Homo sapiens: one gene and its partners. The protein of the gene in region 4 purifies or fractionates together with the protein of the main gene of each other region. This does not show direct contact. Each region holds a gene or a part of one and is shown on either strand. Other genes may lie near its edges.

Region 1 (7,042 bases), on a different chromosome or scaffold from region 4:
AGTTTCTTTCACAGTCTGTAATGTTATGACTTAATGTTACCAAGCTTCTCTCTCTCCATGCCCAAGCATATCCCAACAACCTTTTTTAAGGAAGAGAGGAAGACTCAGATCCTTAATCAGCATTTAATGCTGAAATAAATTATGTCTGGTTTTTATATTAAAAATTACTAAATATACCTTCAGTTCCATCTTCAGCATTTTCTTGCAGGTCAGAGAAGATTGTAGGTTTCACCAAGACAACACCATAACCTTCATTATTATGTATTATATTATTCACCATGGATATCTTGGGAATGTCATAATGTTCATCTAAGAAGTCCTGTGACATTGAAAACAAATGTTTTAGGAACTGTCATATTCAACATTTCCTGCCTTAAAAATCTTCTTTATTCACACTATTCTAAAAATAAAAGGAAAAAGCTATGTTTAGTCCCATGTTGTAGCACAGTCTGCACCCTTAGTGACACAGCTTTCCTCTGTCATTTCTGCAGATCTATAGGTAACAGCATTCTCACAAGAGATTCCAATCACTGATATTATCAAAATGTGTACACTGTTTATGCTTTTCAAAACCAGAAAATAGAACCCAACAATTTAATAAAGCATAATTTGTAGGTAAAACCATTCTATCCATTGAAAAGTGGGTGTTTTGGCTGATGCTCACCTTAATGAGGATCCCTTCCTTGCAGTGATGGATCCCATTGTCACTCAGGGTGCACTGACTCCCAGGGTAGATTTCTATACCAGCACCCTGTGAGTCACAGTTTGAGATAATGACAATCAGTTTTTAAAAGGCAAGACTATAAGAGTTTATTACAATTACTTCTTAGCCTTTAACACAGTACAAATGTACAGCACAAAGATAAAGTACTTTACAGATAAGTTTTACCAGCCATTTTTAATCAACATTTCCATTTGTTCCATTTCTAGCAAGTTGTTGACAATTTATCATTTTCAAAACCACACACACACACACACACACACACACACACGCTAAGAGTGCCAACACTTGATTCTTGCTCTACTCTCTTTCATTCTAGATAAATGTTTTCTGATTCTGCCAAGAAAAAAAAAAAGTCATTTAACAATTTTGTTGAAAGACACACTTATTCAAAATGACCATTCTCTCAGATACTCAATTAGTTGGAGATAAGTATTTGAATTTAGTAAAATATTGTAATTTGAGGATAGAAACAAGACCCCACATTTTCCAAAACGTGTCAGTTTTAAAATACCCCAACCCAACTTAAAAATCATTTCTATGAGTCCAACAATGGCTTTCCCTACCACACACGTTAACATCAGCAGCCAGTTCAAGTGTCATTCAAACAGAGTAACCAGAAAGATCAAACATGACACTATTCTCTCATACCTTATGGCACCAAAAAACATAAAAATAGTAAGAATTTCTTTCCTAATGCTATGCAAGGCACTCTGGAAAACAAAAATGATTCACTCAAACCTCTATAGTTATTTCAGCAACCATTTGGGAATAATTTAATGCACAACAGCATCGATGAAGAAGAGTTGCTGTAACCATTGATGACACATCTAATGCATGTATGTTCAGTTAATTTTCTAGTAGCAGTAGTATTCCATGAGAAAACATTTATTATTACTTAACCCTGTACATATGCCTGAACCATATGTATACACCAATCTAACTCTTTTGTAGAGAGGATTTTAAAAATGTGCTAATTGTGTCTTCTAAGAGATTTTCAGTTTGGGGTTATGTGCAAAAAAAGATTTTGGGGCGACTATGTTTAAAAATATCTATAGCAAGATGGTTAAAATTAAATATCAAACTGTCAGGAATCACATAAAATTTGTAAAGGAGAACAATTTAAACCAGCAGTCATGTAGCAAGTGAAAGTCATATTCAAAATATGTTATGAAAAGGAACAGATAATTTGGCAATTAAAAAGTAACTGAGGAGCCTGCCACTTCTGGGATGATGGAGTAGATGTCCCTATTCCTCCTGCTAGGTACGACCAAAAACCATGGGCATTATATATAAAACAAGCATAAGACTGAAAAATGGAGAGAAGAAGGCAGACCAGCTAGGGACCTCAGGACCCAAGAAACAACACCAACACAGTGGTAAGTTCCTTTCTTTTTGCTTCATAATCCCTAGACTTGGAGCTGAAGAAGCCAGCAATCCAGTACACCAACAGACATACACCCAAAAAAAAGCTGCTCTAACGAAAGGACTAGGCAACCTAGAAAGAGGAAAACTTTTAGATAATAATAGCTCTATTCCAGGTAAACACCACAGAGCCAGGACTTTCATCCCCACCAACCACAGTTGCAAGGCCCTCCCTGCAGCAGTGTCAGTGAAAACTATATGAGGAGCCTGGACTTGTACCCCCACCTGGCAGTGCCAAGACAACCACTCCCTCCCTACTGGGGCAGTGTCAGAGCAGGCCTAGTGGAGATTCCAGACTTTCACCATTGCCCACTGGTAACAAGACCACTCCCATATATCACAGTGCCAGTGGAGACCATGTAGGAAGCTAGACCTCCCACCCCTACATAGCAGTAAGAAGGAGCTCCCCCACCCAACTTGGGTATCAATGAACGCCAAGTGGGAACCATGACTTCTACCTCCACCAGTAACAAGATGATACCCATCTACCGCCAACCCTGTCCCTTCTTGTAGTAGTATCAGAGAAGCCAAGTTAAAACAGAAGATCCAGATTCTCACAACATAATATAAAAATATCCAACTTTCATTTGAAAATCCCTTGTCATACCAAGAATCAGGAAAATGTCAAAATGAATAAGACAATTAACAGATGCCAAAACCAAGATGTCAGAGATGATAGAATTAACTGACAGTGATTTTAAAGCAGCCATGATAAAAATGCTTCAATAAGCAATTATGAACACACATAAAACCAATGAAAAATGAAGTCTCAGCAAAGAAGTAGATGATATAAAGAACCAAATGGAAATTTTAGAATTGAAAAATACAATAACTGAAATAGAAAGCTCAATGGATGTGCTCAACAGCAGAATGAAAACAACAGAGGAAAGAATCAGTGAACTGGAAGACAGAACAGTAAAATTTACCCAATAGCAGAGAAAACAGTGAAAAAGAAAAGTAAACAGAGCTCCAGGGGTCTGCTGGAATATAACAAAAGATCCAATATTCATGTCATCAGAGTCCTGGAAAGAAAGAGGGTGAGGCTAAAAACATACTTCAAGAAATAGTGACTAAAAGCTCCCAAATTTGGCAGGATTTGGATAATAAGCCTACAGGTTCAAGAAGCTGAGCAGACACCAAACAGGATAAACTCAAAGAAATCCACGCCAACATACATCATAATTAAACTAGTGTAAGCTTAAAACAAAAATCTTGAAAGCATCAATTAAAATTTTATGCCTTACCTATAGGAGAGAAAATGTGATTGACAGCATCAGAAACCATGGACGTCAGATGAAAGACACACAGTATTGTTCAAGGGCTAAAAGAAAAAAAATTGTCAACCCAGAATCCTATAACCAGTGAAAATATTCTTCAGGAATGAGGAGGAAATCAAGATATTCTAAGAAGAAGGAAAAATAGGAAAATTTGTCACCAGCAGACGTATCTTCATAGAATGACTAAAGGAAGTTATCTAAACAAAAAAGAAATGATAAAAGAGAAGATCCTGGAACATCAAAAAGAAAAAAAAAGAACACAGTAAGCAAAGATATAGGTAAATACAATAAGCTTTCCTTCTCTTGAGTGTTCTAAATTATGTTTGACATTTGAAACAAAAATCATAAAATTCTCTAATATGGTTCTAGATGTACGTACATAAGGCAAATGTTTAAGACAATTATAAAAAGGAGATGGTAGAGAATAATAAAAGGAGGCAAGGTTTCTATACTTTACTTGAACTGGTGACACCAGTAAACTGTTATGTACATATAATATACAACCTAGGGCGACCACTAAAAAAGTTATATGAAGAGATATTCTCAAAAACAAATGAAATTCTGAAAAATGTTCAGCTATCCACAGGATGGCAGAAAAAAAGCAAATCAAGAAATGAAAAGCATAACAAACAGAAAACACGAAATAAACTAAAGATTTAATATCAATAATTAAATGTAAGTGGTCTAAATACAATTAAAAGACAAAGATTGCCAAAGTGGATTAAAAACATGACTCAACTATATGCTGTCTACAACTCACTTCAAACAGAATATAGGCAAGTTGAAATTAAAACAATAGAAAAAGACTATTCAACAAGAGCTAACTATCCTAAATATATATGGGTGCATATAACTATCCTAAATATATATGCACCCAATACAGGAGCACCGGATTCATAAAGCATGCCCTTAGAGACCTACAAAGAGACTTAGACTCCCACACAATAATAATGGGAGACTTTAACACCCCACTGTCAACATTAGACAGATCAACAAGACAGAAAGTTAACAAGGATACCCAGGAATTGAACTCAGCTCTGCACCAAGCGGACCTAATAGACATCTACAGAACTCTCCACCCCAAATCAACAAAATATACATTCTTCACAGCACCACATCACACTTATTCCAAAATTGACCACATAGTTGGAAGTAAAGCACTCCTCAGCAAATATAAAAGAACAGAAATTATAACAAACTGTCTCTCAGACCACAGTGCAATCAAACTAGAACTGAGGATTAAGAAACTCACTCAAAACAAAACTGCTCCACTACATGGACACTGAACAACCTGCTCCTGAATGACAACTGGGTACATAACGAAATGAAGGCACAAACAAAGATGTTCTTTGAAACCAACGAGAACAAAGACACAACATACCAGAATCTCTGGGACACATTTAAAGCAGTGTGTAGAAGGAAATTTATAGCACTAAATGCCCACAAGAGAAAGCAGGAAAGATCTAAAATTGACACCCTAACATCACAATTAAAAGAACTAGAGAAGCAAGAGAAAGCACATTCCAAAGCTAGCAGAAGGCAAGAAATCACTAAGATCAGAGAAGAACTGAAGGAAATAGAGACACAAAAAACCCTTCAAAAAATCAATGAATCCAGGAGTTGGTTTTCTGAAAAGATTAACAAAATTGACAGACCACTAGCAAGACTAATAAAGAAGAAAAAAGAGAGAAGAATCAAATAGATGCAATAAAAACTAATAAAGGGGATATCACCACCAATCCCACAGAAATACAAACTACCATCAGAGAACACTATAAACACCTCTATGCAAATAAACTAGAAAATCTAGAAGAAATGGATAAATTCCTCAACACATACACCCTCCCAAGACTAAACCAGGAAGAAGTTGAATCTCTGAATAGACCAGTAACAGGTTCGGAAATTGAGGCAATATTTAATAGCCTACCAATCAAAAAAAGTCTAGGACCAGACGGATTCACAGCCGAATTCTACCAGAGGTACAAAGAGGAGCTGGTACCATTCCTTCTGAAACTATTCCAATCAATAGAAAAAGAGGGAATCCTCCCTAACTCATTTTATGAGGCCAGCATCATCCTGATACCAAAGCCTGGCAGAGACACAACAAAAAAAGAGAATTTAGACCAATATGCCTGATGAACATCGATGCAAAAATCCTCAATAAAATACTGGCAAACCGAATCCAGCAGCACATCAAAAAGCTTATCCACCATGATCAAGTTGGCTTCATCCCTGGGATGCAAGGCTGGTTCAACATATGCAAATCAATAAACGTAATCCATCATATAAACAGAACCAAAGACAAAAACCACATGATTATCTCAATAGATGCAGAAAAGGCCTTCAACAAAATTCAACAGCGTCTCATGCTAAAAACTCTCAATAAACTAGGTATTGATGGGATGTATCTCAAAATAATAAGAGCTGTTTATGACAAACCCACAGCCAATATCATAATCAATGGGCAAAAACTGGAAGCATTCCCTTTGAAAACTGTCACACAAGACAGGGATGCCCTCTCTCACCACTCCTATTCAACATAGTGTTGGAAGTTCTGGCCAGGGCAATCAGGCAGGAGAAAGAAATAAAGGGTATTGAATTAGGAAAAGAGGAAGTCAAATTGTCCCTGTTTGCAGATGACATGATTGCATATCTAGAAAACCCCATCGTCTCAGCCCAATATCTCCTTAAGCTGATAAGCAACTTCAGCAAAGTCTCAGGATACAAAATCAATGTGCAAAAATCACAAGCATTCCTATACACCAATAACAGATAAACAGAGAGTCAAATCATAAGTGAACTCCCATTCAAAATTGCTTCAAAGAGAATAAAATACTTAGGAATCCAACTTATAAGGGATGTGAAGGACCTCTTCAAGGAGAACTACAAACCACTGCTCAATGAAATAAAAGAGGACACAAATGGAAGAACATTCCATGCTCATGGATAGGAAGAATCAATATCATGAAAATGGCCATACTGCCCAAGGTAATTTATAGATTCAATGCCATCCCCATCAAGCTACCAAGGACTTTCTTCACAGAATTGGAAAAACTACTTTAAAGTTCATATGGAACCAAAAAAGAGCCCACATCGCCAAGACAATCCTAAGCCAAAAGAACAAAGCTGGAGGCATCACGCTACCTGACTTCAAACTATACTACAAGACTACAGTAACCAAAACAGCATGGTACTGGTACCAAAACAGAGATATAGACCAATGGAACAGAACAGAGCCCTCAGAAATAATACCACACATCTACAACCATCTGATCTTTGACAAACCTGACAAAAACAAGAAATGGGGAAAGGATTCCCTATTTAATAAATGGTGCTGGGAAAACTGGCTAGTCATATGTAGAAAGCTGAAACTGGATCCCTTCCTTACACCTTACAAAAATTAATTCAAGATGGATTAAAGACTTAAATGTTAGACCTAAAACCATTAAAACCCTAGAAGAAAATCTAGGCAATACCATTCAGGACATACGCATGGCAGGACTTCATGACTAAAACACCAAAAGCAATGGCAACAAAAGCCAAAATTGACAAATGGGATCTAGTTAAACTAAAGAGCTTCTGCACAGCAGAACAAACTACCATCAGAGTGAACAGGCAA
Region 2 (4,490 bases), on a different chromosome or scaffold from region 4:
AAGACAAGTGTGACGAGGAAGGATTTATCAACTGAAAAATGTTTACTGACACAGGGAATCTAGAAATGTACCTTCCAGATACATACAAATATTTAAGCAAAAACTGTTCCAAGGGTATTTCCTGCAGCACCTGCCCAAAAGGAGCAAACTGGTCTTAACAAAATCAGGTGTACATCAATGTTACGCAGTCAGAATGAGACACATCTGAATGCCTAACATAAAAAGATCTACAGTAACTAGGTATCTATACACATTGATGTATAAACTGTTTATGGAAAGAAGCTTCTTATACAGTGTTTCTGGAAAGGGAGACTGCTATCCTGCTGTCTATAATGTGTGTATGGATTACTAAGAAAGGATTGAGTAATTCTCCACTACTGCCACTAGCCTCTGGAGGAAGAGGGCACACAGTTTTTACCTCTAAGAATTATTATAAGACATTCAGCCTTATTTGGTTGTATGAAATACTATGCTAGAAAATGATCCATAATTACACCTTGTACTACTCATGTTGTACTTTAATGATTAAAATAAATACCATGTTGCTGCCTGGTCTGGAGGACAAGACACACCATCAACTGACTCAGTGTTCTTCACAACCAGACTACAGGCAATTTTTTTCCAAAACATACATCTTTGGGAAGCAAACAAATTATTTATGGAAGAAAAAAGGAGGAATGTTTCACATTCAGGCAAACATAATACTGTCAGTGTGTTTGGACTAGAGATTTTATTTTAGAAGTATAAAGGATGGAGGCGCGATATTTGGCATTTTTAATTTAGGTTTGTTTTATTTAAGTTTAATGTTAATTCCATGCTGTGTTTCAGTAAGAACAATACAGATTCTGTATCTGTGGCTCCAGTCAGATATCCAGTAGTACAAATTAGCTTCAAGTTACACATACTGAACAAAAGAGGTTGAGCGAGCGAAGGAGGGGAGGAGTGAGGGGAAGGAGGTAGGGGGAGGGGGAAGGAGAAGAAACAAAAGAATTGAACAGGCATGCAGGCTTTTCCATACCACCTTCAACGCTAACCTGCTTCAGTGGGAGAGTAAAGTAGGCAAGAATGAGCAGCCACGGATTGTTGAACTGTTACCAGCACCATGCTTTTCAGCAACATTTCAGCGGAGTTGGAAACATTTTTTACAGCAAAACCATTACAACGAAGTCCCTCCCCAAACCACCTTTAACCATCTCAAGCTAACACCCAATTACTTGCAAACACTGGTATAAAACACAGTTTAAACAATTAGAAAAATGAAAACTGATACCACTTATGCCTCTATAGTGTGATTAACCTCTCTCTTAGATGCTTGCATCACCTATAAGTCTAATGGCTTTCAAATGTAATTTCCATTTGCTAATGGTGATCTTGCCACATCTGGCACGGAGACGACACAGTAATGCTGAAAAAGCCTCTATGTAGTCCTGTTAGTGTCTTAAAGAACCTAAAAGCTGGGACCAGTAAAATCCACAGAAATTCACTCTTGCCTTTAAGAACTTTTGAAAACTGTTTAAAAAAAAAAAAAAAAAACCAACAGGGCAGGAACCTAAATTCTGAGACCAAATGTAAAAGTCAGATTTGGTGGTTCTCAGTGACAATGGGGAGTTTCCAAAGGGTGGGATGGGGAGGAGGGGGTGGTCAGAGATGGTTTCTCTTGTTGGCTTATGTCTCACTGATTTTCGTCTTCCACGTCCTGCAGCGCTTCTTTATTCTGCTCTTCACCTGTTAAAAAAGAAAAAAAGTCAATTATTTCGTATTGACTACATTAGGCTATGGCAGCCACAAACAAAGGTGTCATTCCAAGCATAAAGACTCTTCTACTTGCTACAATTGGTATTAAACGCAGGCAAAGGACTTCTATCATCCTTGACACCTGAGATGCCTAAGCCAAGAAGGGATTATGGTCCTGAAAGTATTTATTGGTCAACAGAATGAAAAAAACTGATGCGCAGTACAACTCAATGTTTTTACGCTAAATAAGCTCTTGACGTAGACAGCCAAGGAAACCATCTTACTAAAATGACATTCAAGCTTTCACATAAATCTTGGGTCAAAATACTCTTTCTCAATAACCTCACCTCTTCAAGAATCAAGAGTATTTTGCAAACTTTTTGCAAAATCTAATTTACCCACAAGCTAATTATCAGAAATGCTTCAAAATAGTTAACTGAGCAATAAACTGTTGCCAAGAAGTTCTATCGTATTTTATTGTGGGGTTCTGCTGTTATAAATATTTCAGCTTTTGTATCTTGGCCAGATACACCAAACTATAATCAGATTTTACTTCAGAGTGAAACACAGCATGCTCAAAGTAAATCAGACCACTGAGGTTATTAAAGAATGGCATTTGGACCACTTCACTCATGCTATTTGTCTTTTGCCTTTAAAGAGGGTGATTACCCTAAGGAGTTTCAACTGCACTATGACATGCAACAGAAAGCCACCTATTGGTTGGAGGGTCATCTACCTATTAGTATGCATTAAACAAGTCAGCCAAAATAAAGAAGCATGCAGGCTTTTCCCTTAAAAATGATGTAACAGGTAAAAGTTACATTCACTTGTACTTTTTTAAAAAAACCACTTACAATTACTACACAGTTAACTAGTTTGAAACAAAATAAATGAAAAATCAACCCAAGAATCATAAATGTTCAAATGACTATCCATTCATAATGCTTGTTAAATTATTTAATTAGGATGGACAAATAACACCAAACTAGCTGCCTACACACATGAAGCATTTACACTGAGTACAGCTTTGAAACAGCCTAAATGATCTCAAAATGACAAATGTCACAGCATCAAGGTTTCAGTAGTTTTCAAATCTCTTCTGCGGCGGAAACGCTTGACATTGCTGTGTGACTTCAAAACCCACTTACAGCCTCAGCAACACAGTGAAGCCCTGTCTCTACAAAAAATGAACATAACGCCGGGCACGGTGGCTCACGCCTGTAATCCCAGCACTTTGGGAAGCAAAGGCGGGCGGATCACGAGGTCAGAAGATCAAGACCATCCTGGCTAACACAGTAAATCCCCATCTCTACTGAAAAAATAATACAAAAAATTAGCCTGGCGTGGTGGCACATGCCTGTAATCCCAGCTACCTGGGAAGCTGAGGCATGAGAATTGCTTGAACCCAGGAGACGGAGGTTGCAGCGAGCCAAGAACATGCCACTACACTCCAGCCTGGGTAACAGAGTGAGACTCCGTCTCAAAAAAAAAAAAAAAAGAATAAATAAAACTAAAAGTAAAAAACTATGTATGCTGGAGCCAGGCATGGTGGCTCACGCCTGTAATACCAGCACTTTGGGAGGCCAAGAGAGGTGGATCATGAGGTCAGGAGATCGAGACCATCCTGGCTAACACAGTGAAACCCTGTCTCTACTAAAAATACAAAAAAAAAAAAAAAAAATTAGCCAGGCATGGTGGCAGGCGCCTGTAGTCCCAGCTACTCGGGAGGCAGGAGAATGGCGTGAACCCAGGAGGCGGAGCTTTCAGTGAGCCAAGATTCTGCCGCTGCACTCCAGCCTGGGCGACAATCGAGACTCCGTCTCAAAAAAAAAAAAAACTACATACGCTGGGCATGGGGCCACATGTCTATAGTCCCAGCTACTTGGGGGGCTGAGGTGGGGGAGTTCTATTTCTGCAGTGAGCTTTGAACGCCACTGCACTCCAGGCGGGGCAACAAGAGCAAAACTCCGTCTCAAAAAAATGTATAAAATTTTAAAACTACTTAAAATACATGAAGATCTTTAATTCATAAGACAGAAAAAAAATATGCAAAGGCAAAAAAAAATTGCTTAGGGATGAAAGAACTGATGGGCACCCAACTGTTCTCCAAAGGACAATAACGTATTCAAACGTAGGAAACATGATAGGAACATTCACTCTAACAGCAAATCACTGCCAAAGTATCATTAACACAAACACTAGAACACAACTCGCTTGTAAGCAACCATGAGATGTGCCAGAAGTTCCAAGTAACTTTGGCATAAAAATGTCACTGTCATATACATCACATCCAACCACAGTAGGCAGGAGGAGCAGGCCGGAAAAGGCTTAGGTCAGCGCCCTGGAAGGTGGAACAGGCAGAGTCTGTAAGCAACAGGACGATCATACGCAGGCATGATTAGTGAAGAACCAAAACTGAAAGCGGAATTCACTGTGCCATGAACGTGACTTACAAAGTAGAGTTTTTAGGAAAGGAAGAGTTGGGTTTTCCTTTAGGAATCTATATTGCAAGGAAAAAGGGAGGGAGAACAATCATATGAAAGCAACATTACAAGAAAAATAAACCAACAGAGCAGGACAAAGGAAAACAATGATACAGGAGCCGGACTTTGGTCTTACTTCGTGTAAACTTCACTCTAAGCAACAATCTGTCTACTCCTCCTCCCTTCTACTCTGAGAAGGAAGTAATATCCTCTTGAAAGACATACAGATATTAGGGGAAAAAGGATTCCTTGGCTATGTTTCTTTGCCCAGTG
Region 3 (4,389 bases), on a different chromosome or scaffold from region 4:
GTGCAAAACCAAAAACCCAATCCCAAACCCATCACTGCCAAATAAGCACTAAAGTAACCAGCAAATGAATTCCAACAGCTGCTTCAGTTCTGTTCACCTCTCCATCCCATACCTATCAACAACGGGGAATGTGGAAGTTTTGGATCTGAACAGCCTAAGAAACATCTCTCCATTGCTAGTCTCCAGATCTTTCCAGGCTGCTAACAATGGAGAGCGCGGAGTCTTGGCTTTCTTCACCACACTGACGAGTGAGGCCTTGTGTGTTTAAGACCCCACTGGTAACACACACTCAGCTTCCCCCATCCTTAAAGGGTAGGGAGCCAGGGTGGGCTTCACATGGGCGGACCTGCTGCCAGTCAGCCTGTCTACTGTGAAGTCGAGTCCAAGAGGTTCCTGTCCCCTCTAGTCACATGGCCACCCTGCCCAGACTGAGCCTCCCCTGCTTCCCTGTAGAGGGGCAGGCCCGGGTGCGGAGTGGAGGCCCTTGGTGCCCATCAGTCCCCCTCCCACAGAACAGTCACCACCACACTGAGAATTTATCATAGAATAGATTTATTTACCTGAAACCATGTCTGTGCGACGCTCATTGTTACCAGCACAGAAAGAAACAAACTGATCTCTATTTACAGTCTAAAGTCAAACATGCGCAGTGATAAATTGACATTTAGCATTTTATTAAGATAAATGCATCACAATATTTGTATTGCACCAACATCTGTCTACTGCTTCTGATTTCATTAAATAAGTTACATTTAATACAGTGCGAAATAGCTGTCTGCACACTCAGAAAATAACTGAAAATGAACTGGAGGCCTACATTTTAACCATTCAACACCTGTAGTGTTTTTAATGAATTTATAAATAAGCAAACTGTACAGGGCCAATTAAAAAGTAGCATGTTCCAATGTCACTGGAGAGGGATCTGGCTACTTACAACCGAAGGCATGCATTACAATTGAATACTGTACATTTATATAAGCTATGACATTTTGCAGAGAAATGTGGCGACTTGGCTGACGGCTTCCAAGTTCTTAGATAAGGTTACAGAGCCTCATTCCTCTTGCAGCAAAGAAACCAAACTTCTCTGGAGAGGCTTTCTGATTAAGCTAAATTGTACATCTGTAATCAGTATTTTGATTTAAAAGCTAACAACCCCATTGGTAATACACATTTCCTCCACATAACACAAAGTGAGTTGGGAAGTTTTTTACTTTTCTTTTTCCCCAACATCAGTCATGCACAGGGTTGGTAGATGTGTTGCTAAAAACGCACATGCACGCAACCGAACACCCTTACATTTCTGCAAAATGGTTTAGGAAGCGGTTACTCCAGTATTGCTGAAAAGGAAAGAGAGAGGAAATCAGCTTCATGAAATACAGAGAGGAAACGTTAGAATACCTATTTAAATAGATGAAGATCAACAGCGACAGATGAAAAGGAACATTCAGCTTGATCTTTTCAAGGTTTCAAGACCAGCATTTCTGATTTACTGTCCCTGAGGTGCCGCCCACACAGGGTAGCATCTAGAAGCACTGGCTCAGTGACACAGACTCCTCGTGTCGTCTGGCTACAGAATAAAGGCTCTGGAGGAAAACCCCATGAGGCAGACACAATCGTTGCAGCTGTGAAAGCAGCGAGACAGGCAAGAGGACAAGGTCTTGGTTAGTGGTGCAGAGGGTGAGGTTGATGGAGAAGTGAGCAGCCAGTAGCAGCACAGCCTTCCTGTCCCTGCCCTGTGGGCACCCGGCTTCTGGCTGCTCGCCTGCCTTGCCTAGCCCTGGAGAGGAAACTCCTCCGCATCATTCTCCTCAGTAAAGGAGGGTGAAGCCTACCCTTCTTGCTAACTGCAGCGGGTGTTTGGACAATTTGGTGGTTACAGTCACAGGGCAACTGCTGGCTCTGCTCACAGGCACTGCAGACGTGGTATGCTCTGGCCCTGGACAGTGGCTAGATGCTTGGTAGACACTGAGCTAATCTTGTGGTCTCAGGTCTTAGGTCTGCCCACCTCAGTCAGGGCTGAAGCTCCAGTCCGAGGGGATGTGGGAGCAGCTGTTGTGAGGGAAGTCGGCCAGATGCCCTGCTTGCCTGGGAGCTCACTGAGCTCAAGGGACAGCTTCCTCCAGAATGGATCATCTGCATTCTGCAGAGTGGTGTCCCAGTTAGGGTATGTATGATTGTTGGTCTTCTGGGCAAAGCTCAGAGAGGCCAAGGGAGGCACGGGGTGGCAACAAGCGACACTGATGGCTGGGCCTTCAGCCACCTGCCCATCAGGAAAGAATGTGGAAGTAAGTTTCAGGCAAGAGCTGCCTGACAGCAGGCACATTGCGGGGCTGGGCAGCTGCTGCCTCACTGTTAGGTGAGGGCCTGAGGCCAGGGATGTGCCAAGACCACGGTGCTGGACCTGGTCTTTATGGGTTGACCTGAGGAGGAGATGCTGAAGTGTTTTCACCCAGCAAAGCCTTCAGTGAAATGGAGCAAGTGGCCCTGCTCAAAACAGCAGTGGGCCTAACCCACTCCCAGCTGTCTGGACCAAGGGAAGTGGGTCCCTCCATGGGCTCCTCTGTGGGCTGGAGGGGTCTGAAGCTGAGAAACCATGAAGCTAACTAGGGGCTGTGCGACAGCAGGCCACACACTACTCAACTTTTTTTGTAAAGGCCACTAAGTCAAGGAACTGAGTCAGGAAAAGCTGAGTTTTGTTTGCACGGAATAGCAATAGTGCAGCACTCAAGTCAGTTTGCAGCCCAGAGATGCACTCCTTGCATTTGGCCCATTCAACCCATTTCTTGTTACACCTCATGATGCTCAAACTGGCAAAATTTACCCCCTGCCCCAAATGTTCCCTGCTGGGCAAAGCAGCCTCCCTTCCCGAGAGCCACAGCTGCCTGCGAGCAGCCTTGGAGGCTTCACAGTAAGGCTGATTTTTTTTTGACAGGGCCTCACTCTGTTGCCCAGGCTGGTTTGAGTACCTGGGCTCAAGCAATCCTTCTGCTGTGGCCTCCAAAGGGCTGAGACTTACTTACAGGCATGAGCCACCACACCCAACCACGGACTGTGCTTTTAAGAGTCGGTCTCCAGGTTCCACCTCCATCCCTTGAACGTGGGCCCTCTGAACTCAGCAGCACCTTGTCCTGCTTGATGCCTCCTAACCCTCCCCAAACTCCAACCATCTGCATTACATCTACTGGCCATCCCAGTAACCAGAGCCTAAGTACATTTTGAAGAATATAGTCGAGGCCTCACACCCTGGCTAAGGAGTAAGCTGGTTTTTGGGCTGTGCAGAGCCACGTCCTACTAACTGTGCTTTAACATCCCCTGCAGAGCTAAGTCTTAGCCACCAAGGACAAGACCAAGCAAGGGGGGGTGGGGGAGTGGGGAAGTGGCCTATTTAAGACGAACCTATCGATACCCAGAGTTCACTGGTTCAGTTACTTGCTTTCACTAGTTTTTAGCTTTTTAATAAATAAGTAGCAATGTTCTGGGATGACTCCTGGCAGCTGCGAACCCTCATTTTAGCAATAGTCTGCACAGCTCCTTCAGCCTGTTGGTCTGGCTGAAATGCCTCTCTCCCCACTCCGGCTTTTGTCTGGCTTGGGCCCTCCTGGTCATCTTGTCCTAGGCAGCCTGTGGAGGTCTATGAAAGCCACACCTCCAGCCAGCTGATGCTGCGCCCGAGTCACATGGCAGGCGCCACAGGCAACCCCGGTGCTCACAGGGCATCAGGGAGCACAGCAGCATCTGCCATGGAGGCGGCTTATAAGTTAGTGACATACAGTTATCTCACTTGGTGGCAGTCACCTTTAGGCTAAAGCATCCAAATCCCAGGAAGAAAATACTCACGTTAGTTGATGGATGTTGGAAGGCATTGGAGGAAAACACCACAGTTAGGACTGTTAATGACTTACACACTGTTGGTGAGACTCATCTCGAACATGCGCAAACATTGATCGTAGTAACGGTGGTGGTGGTTAGTGCCACATTCAAATAAAAATAGTTCTATACAATATGTTCATTTGGTCATGTGCTATTTACAGATTTTACAAAACACACACATACACACACATACACACTTGCCCTTATGTTCTCTATACCAGGCCAGCAGAAACTTGCATAAAATGTACATCACAGATGACAATTAGTGCCTGTACATTAAGAATACAATTCCTATGACTACCTACACAGCAGAGCAGGAGCCTTCTTCCCCTCAAGCAGAGTACAACTAAAGTTCTGAGCTAAGAACTGGAGAGAAAGTTGGACATGTCTGTTAGTCCCAGGTAAGCCACTTACGAGTTAAAGACAAGACAGTTATTTTTCTCTGTCCATTTAAAATGTTTTATTTTTTTAAAACTAGATGACGTGCCACTGAAATAGGCAATGTTGGCAAAACAATGT
Region 4 (7,042 bases):
AAATGAAAAGGAGAAGATGATCTCAGGACAGAAATTGGAAATAGAACGACTGGAAAAGAAAAACAAAACTTTAGAATATAAGGTTTGTTTTGACATTATTATGATAGATGTATGTGCTGGTGTTTTAGCACTGTTCTCTGAGGGAGATATTGTGCTCCAACGGCCTGTAAATGCTGCTTATTAAGAGTTCTCGGTTGAGTGCGGTGGCTCATGCAGGTAATTCCAACACTTTGGGAGGCTGAGGTGGCCAGATCATCTGAGGTCAGGAGTTCAAGAACGAGCCTGGCCAACATGGCAAAAGCCCATCTCTACTAAAAAAGTACAAAAGTTAGCTGGGCGTGGTGGCGAGTGCCTGTAATCCCAGCTACTCAGGAGGCTGAGGCAGGAGAATCGCTTGAACTGGGGAGGTGGAGGTTGCAGTGAGCCGAGATTGAGCCACTGCACTCCAGCCTGGGCGACAAGAGCAAGACTCTGTCTCAAAAAAAAAAAGAGTTCTCAGGCTGAGTGCGGGGGCTCATGCCTGTAGTCTCAGCACATTGGGAGGCCAAGGCAGGGAGATCACTTGAGCCCAGGAGTTCCAGACCAGACCGGGCAACGTGGCGAAACCCCATATCTACAAAAAAAATTAGCCAGGCATGGTGGTACATGTCTGTAGTCCCAGCTACTCGGAAGGCTGAGATGGGAGAACAGCTTGAGCCTGGGAGGTTGAGGCTGCAGTGAGCTGGGATTGCACGACTGCACTCCAGCCTAGGTGACAGAGCGAGAGCCTGTCTCAAAAAAAAAAAAAAAGTTCTCAATTGGTTGTTTACTAATCCTCATCCCATGCTAAGGAGGAAATGTGAGTGAAATGAAGAATCATATGTTCTTTAATTTTATGAGAGTTTTAACAGTTGAAAAGGATGTTCTCTGACCCAAACAAGGGAGCTTTCTAGAGCTTAGCTTTGGTTGTAGCTTGCTTTTGAATTTATTAGAAATATTTCCTTAGTATGCTTTTTTTTTTTAATGAGATAAATGATTAAATGAAATGGTATAAAAGTGCCAGCATCGGGCCTTGGACGTAACAGATACTCAGTAAAGCTTAATTGGATCTGTATTTGGTTTACAAATCGATTGTAAAAGTATAAACTCAGGATTAATCTCTTACAATGGGGTAGAAGGAAATACCGTTTTGTTGGGAAGCATTGCAGCACTGTGTAATGTATGTCTGTTCTCTCATTTACAGAGGGTCATTTAGAGGTTTGGTGGGGGTACACATTCATAAGAGAAGTTAGTCTCAACCAATATAGTTTTTTTAAATTCTGAAAATAGCCTAAAAACTAAATTTTAGCCCTTAATTTTAGGAGAAAGTAATTTTCACATGAAGTTAGTTGTAAATGTCTTTGGGTGAGGAGCTTGTTTAACATGTTTTCATTTCTGAGAATGGGGGTGGGAATTCAGATGAAATGTTAGAGAAAAAAGTGCTTTCTCCATGATGTTTCTTTCCACAAATATGCTTGCATAAGCAAATTAAGGAAGACTATTTTATAGCGACATGAAATGTTTATATACCAAATATTGAACATAGTGGTCTACCTTCCTAGATTGAGATTTTAGAGAAAACAACTACTATCTATGAGGAAGATAAACGCAATTTGCAACAGGAACTTGAAACTCAGAACCAGAAACTTCAGCGACAGTTTTCTGACAAACGCAGATTAGAAGCCAGGTTGCAAGGCATGGTGACAGAAACGACAATGAAGTGGGAGAAAGAATGTGTGAGTATCGTTTGGGTAGTGCTTGTCTCAGAGTCGGATGATTTATTTTACATTGTAGTTAGGTTCGATATTTTGAATTATTGTATTTGCGGTAGGGTTTTGGTGGTGGTTGTTAACTCTCAGGAAGAATTGGAGAACTGTCATTTTTAGGAAATAAAGAGATTGGGTAATCTGGTGTACTCGTTTGCTGTGATGGAATGATAATATACATTGCCACTGATAATCTGTAGGAGCGTAGAGTGGCAGCCAAACAGCTGGAGATGCAGAATAAACTCTGGGTTAAAGATGAAAAGCTGAAACAACTGAAGGCTATTGTTACCGAACCTAAAACTGAGAAGCCAGAGAGACCCTCTCGGGAGCGAGATCGAGAAAAAGTTACTCAAAGATCTGTTTCTCCATCACCTGTGCCTGTAAGTTATTTGTAATTGTGTAGTAACTTTGTACTAGAGAAATTTTGTTCAGATTAGATGACTATTTCTATGAGGATTTTTACATTTTATAATACTTACATTTCTGAAATTTCTCTAAAAATATTTTAAAATTTAGAATAAACACAAATTTAGCACAAAAAAATAGAACAAATAATTATTTGTAATGTTAAGTCTTCATGTGCTAACATTATAGAAAAGTAATGAATTGTTTCTCTCAGTTTTTCAGTCTTGCTCATTAATTTTTCTCCAATTTTTCTAGCTTTCTAGTAACTATATTGCTCAGATTTCCAACGGCCAGCAACTCATGAGCCAGCCACAGCTACATAGGCGCTCTAACTCTTGCAGCAGCATTTCTGTAGCTTCCTGTATTTCGGAATGGGAGCAGAAAATTCCTACGTACAACACACCTCTCAAAGTCACATCTATTGCAAGGCGTAGGCAGCAGGAGCCAGGACAAAGCAAAACTTGTATCGTGTCAGACAGAAGGCGAGGGATGTACTGGACTGAAGGCAGGGAGGTGGTTCCTACATTCAGAAATGAGATAGAAATAGAAGAGGATCATTGCGGCAGGGTTAGTGCCAGTATTATTTTAACGCATTGTAGCAATAGATTTTATCTTCTTTGTTTTTTGTAACTTGTGTCTGAAAGTTCATTGGAAAAATGGTTGGGCTATAGTATAAAGAAGGTCTAATTTCTCAGTTAATTTGAAAGATTGACTTACGGAAATTGAGGCCTGGCTCCTCATCTGAAAAAGCCTAAACACATCTGGCAGCGGAAGTGTGTTCAGTGAACACAGGTCAGTTTGGTGCATCCCAGAGTAGTCTGAGCTTTTCAGCTGCATACGCTAATAAGCTTTGCACAGAATTGGTGAATGTGTCTTAAAGCATACTTTCCATATTTTTCTTTTGGTTCCCCTTCCCCAAATTAGATTTTTTATACCTCCTTTCATGCCCTAGTTTTAAAAATTGTTTTCCCAAATTTTTATTTTGAAAAATTTCAGACCCAAAGCAAAGTAGAAAGAATAGTATGGTAATGTCTTTCCCTCCTTGCCTAAGTTTACCAATTGTTACTTGATATAGATATGTAAACCTTTTTCCCCTAAGCCTTGTGAAAGGAAATCACAGACTTAGAGACACTTAATCTCTAAGAATAAGGACATTGTACTACCTAGCCACAATCTTTATCACATCCAAGAAAATCAACATTAATTAATTATCCTCTATTGAGACATTGTGCAGTTGTCCCAAAATTGGATTGGCTTTTCTTTTTTTTTTTTTAAAGACAGAGTCTCACTCTGTCACCCAGGATGGAGTGCAGTGGCATGATTATGGCTCACTGCAGCCTCAGTCTTCCTGAGCTGAAGTGATCCTCTCACCTCAGCCTCCCAAGTAGCTGAGATTACGGGCAGGCCACCATGCTAATTTTTTATTTTCAGTAGAGACAAGGTCTCACCATGTTGCCCAGGCTGGTATTGAACTCTTGAACTCCAGCAATCCTCCTGCCTTGGCCTCCAAAGGTGCTGAGATTACAGGCAAGCCACTGCACCAGCCAGCTTTTTTTTCAATCCATGATACTATGAAAGTGTATGCATTGCATATCATGATTATGTCTTTCATCTCTTTTAATATAAAATAGTCTCACCCTGTCCCCCTACTTTTTTTATTTTTATGACATTGACTATTTTCATTGAAGAGTTTAGGCCAGTTATTTTAAAATTACTGATTTCCATGCCCAATAAATTGCTTTTAATCTTGAGGCATTTATCTCAATTTACATTTGCCTCATTCAAGGGTATTTAAATAAATTCACTTTCATATTTTTCTTCTTAAAGATTAAGGTAAAGTTTCTTTTGAATCTGAATAAATGGACCAAGTTAATGTTTGCGAATTTTATATTTAGTAAAATCTTCACAAAGCTCTCTTAGAATATTTCTTCTAAATCTTACAGTAAACATTTACTTTAGATTTTCTTATATAAGTCAGGGTATAGATGAATGTTCATTTATGTGGCCTGAATTCCTGATTATTAAGGGATGGTGATGAATCCCAAGTTATTTACCAGGGAAACAGATGATTCTAAAGTCTCTTAAGTTCTTTACTTTGCAGATTTTTCCTTAAACATTTTTAGACAGCAAATTAGGTAAATGGTCATTCTGACCAACTCTAGTCAGTCATTTTATGAAAGTTTATAGGCTGAAAACTATTCAAGGCTTGCGTATGCCTTGCAAACCGTAATGAGATATCTAATTTGGCTATGAGATATTTAAGGGAATTTACTAGAGATTCTTACGTGAAATCAAAATCTCTTTAGAAGTGCAGCAGAAAAGTTACTGTAAGGTTAGTATCTGTGCATCTAAGTTTGTTGGTCAAAAATTATGTCAGGTGGACTGAATTTATACTTCAGTGAGGAAAAAATTTAAATATTTGTTTCATAAATGCTAGTAGATTGTATGGATTATCATCTTTCTGAAGTGTGTTTCATCATATGCTTATTGTTAAATGTTTGAAGAAAACCTTTGTTTTTGCTAAATGGTAGATGATAAGGACCAGACTTTCTTTCGTGTTCAACATTAAATAAATCATTGTAGGAATGGAAAGTTCCTGTTTGTCTTGAGGCTCAGCATCTTTAGTGGCAAACTGTATTGCCCATGTCTTAGAGCTGTCACTAGTGCTGCATTTGTTTCTTGTTAACTATATAGCGAAAATGATTCAGTTCCTCAGATGTGCATTTTGAAATTGAGGTCTTCATACTTGACTAGCTTTGACAGATTTGGCCTGTGATAGACTTTTTCCATTTGCTTTCAGTTTTGTTTTTTGGGTTTTTTTTTTTTTTTTTTTTTTTTTTTTTTGAGATGAGGTCTTGATCTGTTGCCCAGGCTGGAGTGCAGTGGTGTCATCTAGGCTCACTGCAGCCTTGACCTTCCAGGCTCAAGTGATCGTTCTACCTCAGCCTCCTGAGTAGCTGGGACCACAGGCATGTGCTATCGCACCTGGCTAATTTTTAAATTTTTTGTAAAGATGGGGTCTTCTTACATTGCCTAAGCTGGTCTCGGGTGATCCTTCTCCCACCTCAGCCTCACAAATGTTGGGATAACAGGTATGAGCCACTGCACCCAGCCCTGCTTTCAGTTTTACAAACAGGAGATGTTCATAAAATTCTAAAGATAATTCATTGCTTCAAACTATAACTATGGCATATATGTGACATATTATTTTCTTAGGCTGAATGTGCTTAATTTAGCATTCCCAGGTTTACATGACATTTGACTGGAAGCAACTTGTTTGTTTTTGAGGCAGGGTCTCATTCTATTGCCCAGGCTGGAGTGCAGTGGTGCGATCTTGGCTCACTGCAATTTCCACCTCCTGGGCTCAAGCAATCCTCCCACCTCAACCTCCTGAGTAGCTGGGACTACAGGCACGTGTCACCAAGCCCAGCTAATATATATATATATATTTTTGTTTGTTTTGTTTTGTTTTGTTTTTGTTGAGTCTGGGTTTCACCATGTTGCCTAGGCTGAACTTGAACTTCTGAGTTCAAGTGATTCCTCCACCTCGGCCTTCCAAAGTGCTGATTACAGGCATGTACCACCATGCCTGGCCTAGCAACTAGTCTTTTATTGTGTGATAGAGACTGATTTGACACTGTATTATTTATTTGTTTCTTGGAACCTGTATGAAATGTTTGGGGGAAAAATTAGTTGGTATATTGTAGCCATTACTGTATTTGAACTTTTCATGAAGTTCTATTATGAGATTTTAAAATCTTAACTGAAAGCACTCAGAAGTATTTCACATTTCTTTAATCATTTTATTCATATGGTTCTTATTATACCTATGTTCTTAGGATTGTTTTCTGTTTTGTTTAGAAGCCTAGAAAATGTGTAGGGCTTTCATTGATCTTATTGAAGATTTTAACAGAGTTGTGGACATAATAGATTACCTCTCAATAGCAGGGATAAATATTGGTTTTTGATCAAGAATATGAAATGAGTTGTTTGTCCTGAACCACCCCCAAGCAGGAAAGACTTGCAGCATTACCAGAATTTTTTCTTTTATCCTTTATTGAAAGGGAAACTCCCAGATAGAATGTGTAACATACAAGTTGGTGTTAAAGATGTTTGTTGGTTTTGTGTTTAAATGCAAAGATCATGTTTAAATTACTTGAATAAAATATTTAGCTTTGGAAAGGTTTGCTATGATACTGTCATCAACTAATGTAGCCAAACCTGCTGCACTTCTAATAATACCCTTAAATTAATTCTGGGTTATGCTTGTTTCTCAGTTACTCTTTCAACCTGATCAGAACGCACCACCAATTCGTCTCCGACACAGACGATCACGCTCTGCAGGAGACAGATGGGTAGATCATAAGCCCGCCTCTAACATGCAAACTGAAACAGTCATGCAGCCACATGTCCCTCATGCCATCACAGTATCTGTTGCAAATGAAAAGGCACTAGCTAAGTGTGAGAAGTACATGCTGACCCACCAGGAACTAGCCTCCGATGGGGAGATTGAAACTAAACTAATTAAGGTAAAAAACTAATTTTCACAGGAGAAAAAAATATATTTAAAAATTCAACAAAAGTCCATTTGTCCTGCTACTCCTTTGGTGACACACAGGTAGTGTCAACTGGAACATCAGTAGGTATTTGATATAACCTTTTTGTTAGCAGAAAATTAGTCACTGCTTAGGTTTTAAGTCTGCCAAACTGGGACTAAGTATGCTTTAAATAGGTATAGATTCTTCGGTTTCTTAGAATTCTAGATCCATGATGTACTTTAATTTTTTAATGACTGTATATTTAGTTTTAACCACTACTTAAAGTAATCTAAGCAAAGAATTCCTATTGCTCTC

Evidence for each region.
Region 1: the proteins of KIF23 (region 4) and SHCBP1 purify together in Homo sapiens (affinity purification with western blotting; 9 studies listed by BioGRID and IntAct, with this or other methods). This does not show direct contact.
Region 2: the proteins of KIF23 (region 4) and YWHAE purify together in Homo sapiens (affinity purification with mass spectrometry; 4 studies listed by BioGRID and IntAct, with this or other methods). This does not show direct contact.
Region 3: the proteins of KIF23 (region 4) and ATP2A2 purify together in Homo sapiens (affinity purification with mass spectrometry; 2 studies listed by BioGRID and IntAct, with this or other methods). This does not show direct contact.

Annotation. Positions count from the first base shown.
Region 1 is NC_000016.10:46,583,339-46,590,380, forward strand, and holds part of SHCBP1 (SHC SH2 domain-binding protein 1), read right to left. Parts: intron 3,468-7,042; coding exon of another isoform or gene 3,420-3,467; exon of another isoform or gene 3,391-3,419; intron 752-3,390; coding exon 665-751; exon of another isoform or gene 664-664; intron 320-663; coding exon 178-319; intron 1-177. UniProt on the Homo sapiens protein: May play a role in signaling pathways governing cellular proliferation, cell growth and differentiation. May be a component of a novel signaling pathway downstream of Shc. Acts as a positive regulator of FGF signaling in neural progenitor cells.
Region 2 is NC_000017.11:1,343,775-1,348,264, forward strand, and holds the end of YWHAE (14-3-3 protein epsilon), read right to left. Parts: intron 1,726-4,490; coding exon 1,673-1,725; 3' UTR 501-1,672; downstream 1-500. UniProt on the Homo sapiens protein: Adapter protein implicated in the regulation of a large spectrum of both general and specialized signaling pathways. Binds to a large number of partners, usually by recognition of a phosphoserine or phosphothreonine motif.
Region 3 is NC_000012.12:110,347,240-110,351,628, reverse strand, and holds the end of ATP2A2 (sarcoplasmic/endoplasmic reticulum calcium ATPase 2), read right to left. Parts: 3' UTR 4,237-4,389; coding exon of another isoform or gene 4,217-4,236; 3' UTR 1,338-4,216; coding exon of another isoform or gene 1,324-1,337; 3' UTR 536-1,323; downstream 1-535.
Region 4 is NC_000015.10:69,438,324-69,445,365, forward strand, and holds part of KIF23 (kinesin-like protein KIF23), read left to right. Parts: coding exon 1-82; intron 83-1,580; coding exon 1,581-1,754; intron 1,755-1,984; coding exon 1,985-2,164; intron 2,165-2,444; coding exon 2,445-2,756; intron 2,757-6,466; coding exon 6,467-6,718; intron 6,719-7,042.